Homo sapiens: one gene and its partner. The protein of the gene in region 2 interacts with the protein of the main gene of each other region in a pairwise test. Each region holds a gene or a part of one and is shown on either strand. Other genes may lie near its edges.

What was found.
Region 1: the proteins of PRUNE2 (region 2) and BDNF interact in binary tests that used the Homo sapiens proteins (3 or more experiments, as listed by UniProt).

Annotation. Positions count from the first base shown.
Region 1 is NC_000011.10:27,658,848-27,662,500, reverse strand, and holds part of BDNF (neurotrophic factor BDNF precursor form isoform a preproprotein), read left to right. Parts: intron 1-2,228; exon of another isoform or gene 2,229-2,345; intron 2,346-2,842; exon of another isoform or gene 2,843-3,653. UniProt on the Homo sapiens protein: Important signaling molecule that activates signaling cascades downstream of NTRK2. During development, promotes the survival and differentiation of selected neuronal populations of the peripheral and central nervous systems.
Region 2 is NC_000009.12:76,710,582-76,714,234, forward strand, and holds part of PRUNE2 (protein prune homolog 2), read right to left. Parts: intron 3,141-3,653; coding exon 2,982-3,140; intron 778-2,981; coding exon 1-777. UniProt on the Homo sapiens protein: May play an important role in regulating differentiation, survival and aggressiveness of the tumor cells.

The DNA of each region.
Region 1 (3,653 bases), on a different chromosome or scaffold from region 2:
GAGTTTATAATTTGGGGTTAGCACAGCCTATATTTACCTGAGAATTTCAATGGGTTCACTGATCTTTCCAAATGAAAAGGCTTCTTACGAAAATTATATCCAAACTGTCTTTTCTCTTAGTTTAATAAACCTATCAGTAAGTTTTTACTGAGTACTGCTATTACATTTTTCTCTGTTAAGCATTATGGGGGCTCAGACATGATCCATTCCCTCAAAGAACTTACCTTTCAGCTGAAGACTGACTAGAATGAGCAAATACGGTTAACAATTAACAAGTGAGTAGGCCAGCTCGGCCAACATGGTGAAACCCTGTCTCTACTAAAAATACAAAAATTAGCCGGGCATGGTGGTGGGCGCCTGTAATCCCAGCTACCTCCTGCTGAGGCAGGAGAATTGCTTGAACCCAGGAGGTGGAGATTGCAGTGAGCCGAGATTGCACCATTGCACTCCAGCCTGGGCGACAGAGCAAGACTCTGTCTTGGGAAAAAAACAAAACAAAACAAGTGAGAAGGGAATCAAGTACTACGTAAGATGTAATGTGGAATTTTAGGGAAGGAAGGCAGTGTATGCTGGAGTAATTAGAGAAAGGGGCATGCATGATTTGATGCTTGAACTGGATCATGAAGGATAAGCAAGATTTTGGCAGCAAGTGAGAGGGAGAGAGGAGTTTGTCAGAGGAATGGAACAAGTCAGGAGGCAGTAATGTGTACGGCACTCCAAGGACTCTGTCCTGATCGGAGCAGAAGTGATGAAGCATTGAGTAGTTTGAGAAAGTTAGCTAAGAAGGGTGAGGGCAGATGTTGGAGAGAGTTGAGTATCAGAGAGAAGACATTAGATTTGAGCAGATAGAACAAAAATGCCATTGCCAGTTTTTGTGTAAGAGAATAGTATTAGGGTGGTTACCCAGGAAGTGGTCATCAGAGTTGAATGGAGCAGAAAGAGTGTCTGATACAGCATCGGGACGTTGTGGTCACAAAATGAGGTGGTGAGGGCTGAGCCAAGATGGTGGCAGTGGGATGGATAAAAAGGGATGGCCAGGACAAATATTTTAAAGGAAAAATTAACAGGACATCTTTACTGACTGGATTGGAAGGCTATGCAGGAAATATATTGTCAAACTTGATTCCAGGATTTCTATCCTATGCCTGGGTTGCCCAAAATATCAGGGAACCATTGTTAGAAAAGGTAGGAGATACCACTGTTCCAACAAAAAGTATTGAGTTTGGTGTTGCACCCACTTAACTTCAAGGCCTTACAAGTGAGTAGACAGTTAGTTAGAATTGCAGAAGTGCCACTCAGAGAGCAGGGCTTGCAATGTGGGGTTGGACTTTGTCACCATTGTGTTAATTCCTAATTCTATGCAGATGCTCAGCTTGAGGAATACCCATGTTTGGGCTTCAGAATGAAAGCCAAGTAATATTTACTCAGATGCCAATTTTCCCTCTGAAATATTTGCTCATGGAACTGAGAGAACAATATATAAAGCATTAATTATTTTTCTCATAAAGTTATTAATAAAAAGATAAGATCAGTGAAAGGCAGAGTAAACTAGAAGCCAAGTATAGAAAATGGTATCATTCAAAGACTCATTACTGTAGTGGTGAAAACAAAACAATTTTCCAACAGCTTAAGATGCCTCAGTATTTTGGACCATTTTTAAGTAGTTAGTGTGGGCACTTAGTAAATATGTATTAAACTATAGTTCATTAATTCTTTTTTTTTTTTTTTTGAGATGGAGTTTCACTCTGGTCACCCAGGCTGCATTTTTGCTTTCTTAGTGATATATAAAATGTCGAGTTTCACAATGATGGTATCTTAGATTTGATTAAATATGGTATTAAAAAATAGCTGATCACAGAAAGTCTCTACCAGTGTGATGTAGATGGCTAAAGTATTCCACATTTGCAAACTTTTATTGACCTAAATAAGAGGTGCCCCTTGGGTTGTTTTTATTTGGACTGGGAATATTAGGAGAAAGCTTTTTCATTCAGTGTGTAAGTACAATCTACCAGAAATAGAAACCCCCATGGACGATCTATTTCTTTGATGGTACAGGACTCAGAACATTCACAAAGATTTAGTTGTTAGCGGAATAGACATCTGTATTTTATTCAAACCAATTTTCCCTTCCTAATCTGAGAACATTGTGCAATCTAAGCAGTTCTAAGCATGTTTGCTATTCGTGCAAAGTGAGAGTAAATCTAAAAGAAATTTTTTTGTGTGTTTAGGGATGGTAATAAAGTCTCTTAGTGGTTGAAAATGTTATTTCTTACAAAAGTGGAGAACATTTGCTTTTCAATACCAGAGTTTTCAGCCATTTCTGCATTCTGACCTATTGACTGGAGGTAGGTTGCCTTTGAATTCAGTAAAACTTCATGGGCAGAAACACAGTTCCTTTTCCTACTTATTTGGATATCATGATGGCCATTGCATGTATGTGTCTTTTTGTAAGTCCATGCCTCAGAACTGAGAAGTAGGAATAAAATTAGGGTCAGGGCTGGGGATGCTACTCTTTGCTGCTGAGAAACACAATGCTTCAGGTAAGTGATTCTGAAGTCCTTCACCACCTGACGGTAACCTTGGGTTGGTCCATAGGTATGTTTTCATTTTGCTTGTTCATCCATTTTAATTGGCTTCCTAGAGCATGCTTGTAGATGTAGAGCCAAATTTAGAGTAGAGCAACCCTCTGGCAAACAGGAAGAGATTAATTTTGTGGTATGCTTTTAAGGGACTTCCCAGGAAACTTCAAAAGCAGAAAAAGAAGCACTAGCTGCCTATTCCAAAATGTGTAAAACACCACTCAGCTTTTTAAAAGTAGGATAAACTCAGAGCGCGCGCACACGCGCGCGCGCACACACACACACACACACAGAGAGAACATCTCTAGTAAAAAGAAAAGTTGAGCTTTCTTAGCTAGATGTGTGTATTAGCCAGAAAAAGCCAAGGAGTGAAGGGTTTTAGAGAACTGGAGGAGATAAAGTGGAGTCTGCATATGGGAGGCATTTGAAATGGACTTAAATGTCTTTTTAATGCTGACTTTTTCAGTTTTCTCCTTACCAGACACATTGTTTTCATGACATTAGCCCCAGGCATAGACACATCATTAAAATGAACATGTCAAAAAATGATTTCTGTTTAGAAATAAGCAAAACATTTTCAGTTGTGACCACCCAGGTGTAGAATAAAGAACAGTGGAATTGGGAGCCCTGAGTTCTAACATAAACTTTCTTCATGACATAAGGCAAGTCTTCTATGGCCTTTGGTTTCCTTACCTGTAAAACAGGATGGCTCAATGAAATTATCTTTCTTCTTTGCTATAATAGAGTATCTCTGTGGGAAGAGGAAAAAAAAAGTCAATTTAAAGGCTCCTTATAGTTCCCCAACTGCTGTTTTATTGTGCTATTCATGCCTAGACATCACATAGCTAGAAAGGCCCATCAGACCCCTCAGGCCACTGCTGTTCCTGTCACACATTCCTGCAAAGGACCATGTTGCTAACTTGAAAAAAATTACTATTAATTACACTTGCAGTTGTTGCTTAGTAACATTTATGATTTTGTGTTTCTCGTGACAGCATGAGCAGAGATCATTAAAAATTAAACTTACAAAGCTGCTAAAGTGGGAAGAAGGAGAACTTGAAGCCACAATTTTTG
Region 2 (3,653 bases):
CACAAGGCTATCTTTGCCAGCCCCTGACAAAAGTGAACTGGATGAATAATTAGACATGTTGGTTCCCATGCCATCAAGTCCTTCAGGCCCAGCGGGGAGCTGTCCTTCTGACAGGTCACTGTTGGGGAAGAAGTCATCTGCTGGGGAGTAGTCTGCAGAATGAGAAGATTGCTGGGACTGCCCAGAAGCCATGGGTGCTGGGTCAAAATTGAAGAGGTCGAAGTGCTCACCGTGTTCTCCAGACCATGCATGTTCCTCCGCCACCGCCCCTTCAGGGATGGGGCTGTAGGAGTCAAGCCCTGGGAGAAGGGTGTGGTGAGGCCCAGCACCTTCTCCCACGGGGCTGTCGTCACTGAGGAAAACAGAGCTCTCCTTGGATGAGCGGCTGCTCCTAATGGTAGCCAGTCCGCTGTCTGGGCTAACAAGGTCTACATTGGCATCCACCTGAGCCTGGTTAGAATCATTGAGATCTGGAGGGTTCTCTATGAAATTCACAGAGCTGGGTTGTGGCTCTATGTCAGAACCATACAATTCCATAATCCCAGAAGACCCCTGGGAGAGGGGGGCACTGCCTGCCACGGCTTCTGTTGAGGATGTCCGGCTATTGGAGACCATCTCTGGACACCTCCTGTTGATGACTTCCTTGACAACGAGAACCACCTGATCACAAGTCACTGAAGGGTCCTCTTGTTGGTACACCAGGATCTCATCACAGCCACAGTCAAAGGGCTCCAGTTCTAGGCAAGGGTTCTGACACTCTTCCAGCTCACAGCAAATCTGTCGGAAGGCACAGGAATTTGTGTCAGCACTCAAGCACTGTTGCACTTTGCAATTGCACTTTGCAATTTATCTCGCTTAATTTTTAAATATAAAATTAATCTGTGTTCATCTGTCTGAAAAAGAAGATCTCAAACTTAGAAAGTTCTGATTACTGTACCACCAACCCTTTCTCCAATTCTATCCAACTGTCTCTCTGTTTAATTCAAAATCCAGGTGCTCGATTTTGAAGGCTCCTGAACGTTTGGGTAAAGGAGTTTAAACCACCTATTCTTTCCTAACTGTAATATAATACCATCTTCCAATAGCAATGTAATTCGAGTTGCAAAAAAGCAGAGATAATGCATGTTGCTGACAACTATAGGAAAAGTGTTGGAATAAGGGGACAATATCAGGAGACAGGCTGTTGTTTGGGAGGGGGCAGCCAGGGCTGCTTGAACCTCTGATAGCTTCAGAATGCAAAAGAGAGAGTAGGAAAGACAAAGATGCTCCCGCAGTCTGATCTTTCCGAACAGCACTCAGGACCCCTCAGTCCCTTTCACCCCAGGTAACGGAGGCATGGAGCCCAAAACAGGCAAAGCTAACCTGGGAGGCAAGGGGACACTGACGGATGGTCAGTGTGAGGCCAGAACTGGGTTACGGCTTTCTGATTTTTAAGGAATGTCAGGAGTATTTTGTTGTGCTGGGCCTTTGAAATGGCCCCACGGGATTAGTAGAGATAAAATTAATAATAATAATAACAACCACCACTACCACCATGGAGCTCACATAGATACTACTACTACTACTAATTAACATTTATTGAGTGCTTTCATGTGCCAGGCATGGTTCTAAGGGTTTTATGATCATTATCTCTTTTAATCACCACAGTAATTCCACAAGGTAGGAACTCTTTTTATTCCTATTTTACCCATGAAGAAATGAAGATACAGGAAGATTAAATAACTTGTCCAGCAACACACAGCTAACAAGTGCTGGAGCCTGAGTTCTGTACCCAGGCAACCTAGCTGCAAAGGCTGACTCGGCCAGTGGTGTGACCACACAGGCCAAGAGGAACTCGCTAGGCCAGAGCCAGGACTCTGTTGCTTAAGATTCCAGCGATCCACCTCTGGCTATTGCTAGGATGGGGAGGGTGGGTGGGGAGAAGAGAGGAGGACTGGGGTCAACTCAAGAGCTTTTAACTCCTTCATCTGCTCTTCTACTTTTGTCTGTTTCCAATGAACCAATTTTCACATTGGTTTGAAAAAGGGGTCTACTGCTAAAAGTGATGTGAAAGCCGCCATGTTGTAGGCTTCCAAGGCCTAAATCCCGTCCCTGGGAAGCCAGTGACCAAAGATGAAATTTAGCTTTGAAACCAAATGCAGAGGAAAGTGATGAAAAAACCACAGGCTGGTGATGCAGGTCAGAGGAGGAGATGCTCTTTCACATTCGGACTTGAGAGAGCCCGAGAGTACCCATAGGCATGGGTCAAGAGAGCTACAGTGGAGCTCTTGGGGGACAGAAAGGAGGATGTAGAAAAGAAAGGGGCAGAGACTGTGCCTCTAGCCACCCATGGATACATAAGGCATTGAATCCATTAGTGAAGAGAAATAAGTAATGAAGCATCTGGGGCCCCGTGTGGCTCCTATTATAATGAATCATGTATGTTCTCATATTAGTTATTAAGTACACCTGGCTTGGTATATCCGATGGCCTATTTTGATTAATTTATCTAATTCTTTTTTTTTTTTATTTCCTAGGCCTTGGGTTAAAAGACTCAGCTATCAACCTGGAGGATAACTGATTACCTAGTCAGAGTTCTGGTACCTGGAGACAAACTAACTTTGATTAAAGCATCAGATCACCAGGTCTTAAACACTGGGCACCAAACCGGTCCTGGGACAGGGGCTAAACCTTGTCAGTTATGATCAGGGAGCAGTCCTAGAAGAAAATAGCACCCAAAGGAGAACTTGCTCTTTTGGGAATGAGAAAGAGCTAATGTTTTGCACTATGGATTCAGTCAAGAAGAGAAATGCTTTTGGGGCTTTCTTAAAAGGCCAAATGTAAAAAGTACCCCCATCATTTCCTAAAACTCAAACCTCTAGGACTCTACCTCTTGGGCTAATTGCTCATGAGCCACCAATCTGTTCTGTCTTGCACTGTGTGTTCTGAGAGCCAGCAGGTTAGGACAGAGGGAACATGACGGGGTCAGAGGAGGGGCTCACCTGACTGCACAGCTCCATGTTTTCTGAGTACACAGCAATCTGTCGTCTCGGCTGCTGCTCCTCTGACAGATAGCTGGAGAACAGGATGAGGACATCAAAACCAAACTTGTCTGTAAATGCTTTCAAGTCACTGGTAATATTGCTGTGAAATAGACAATTCTGAAACGACAACAGGAAATTTGATATTAATGTCAAACTGCCCAGCTGCGGGGAGTTGTTCCACAAATTTGTCCAGTCTTATGATGTATTTAGGAGAGATATTTATTATTTAAGGCAAGTGAAATACAGTTTGCTTTGAGAAGGAGTGGAAACTTTCATGCTATGGCTTAAAATACACTTTGCTTGTTTGTTTTCCCAAACCATGTAAGAAAGGAGTTTTTGCCATTATTAATAATAGTTTAGACAAAGAACAGATATCCTAAACATTTTTTTCTAAAATATTTATTCAGATGCTTAATTTGCAAATCCTATTTTCCCTCTTGTCGCTTATAGGATCTATATACGAATGTCTGCTATTGTTACAATTTATCACAATAAGAATAGGAGGAAGTTATTTCTTCCTGTATTTTTTTTCTAATGATTATTATTAACTCCAAGGAGAAATTCCTACGAATCAACATAGCTGAGTTTACTGGGTGATCTTTATTCCAGTGTAGAATTCTGGGAGATTTT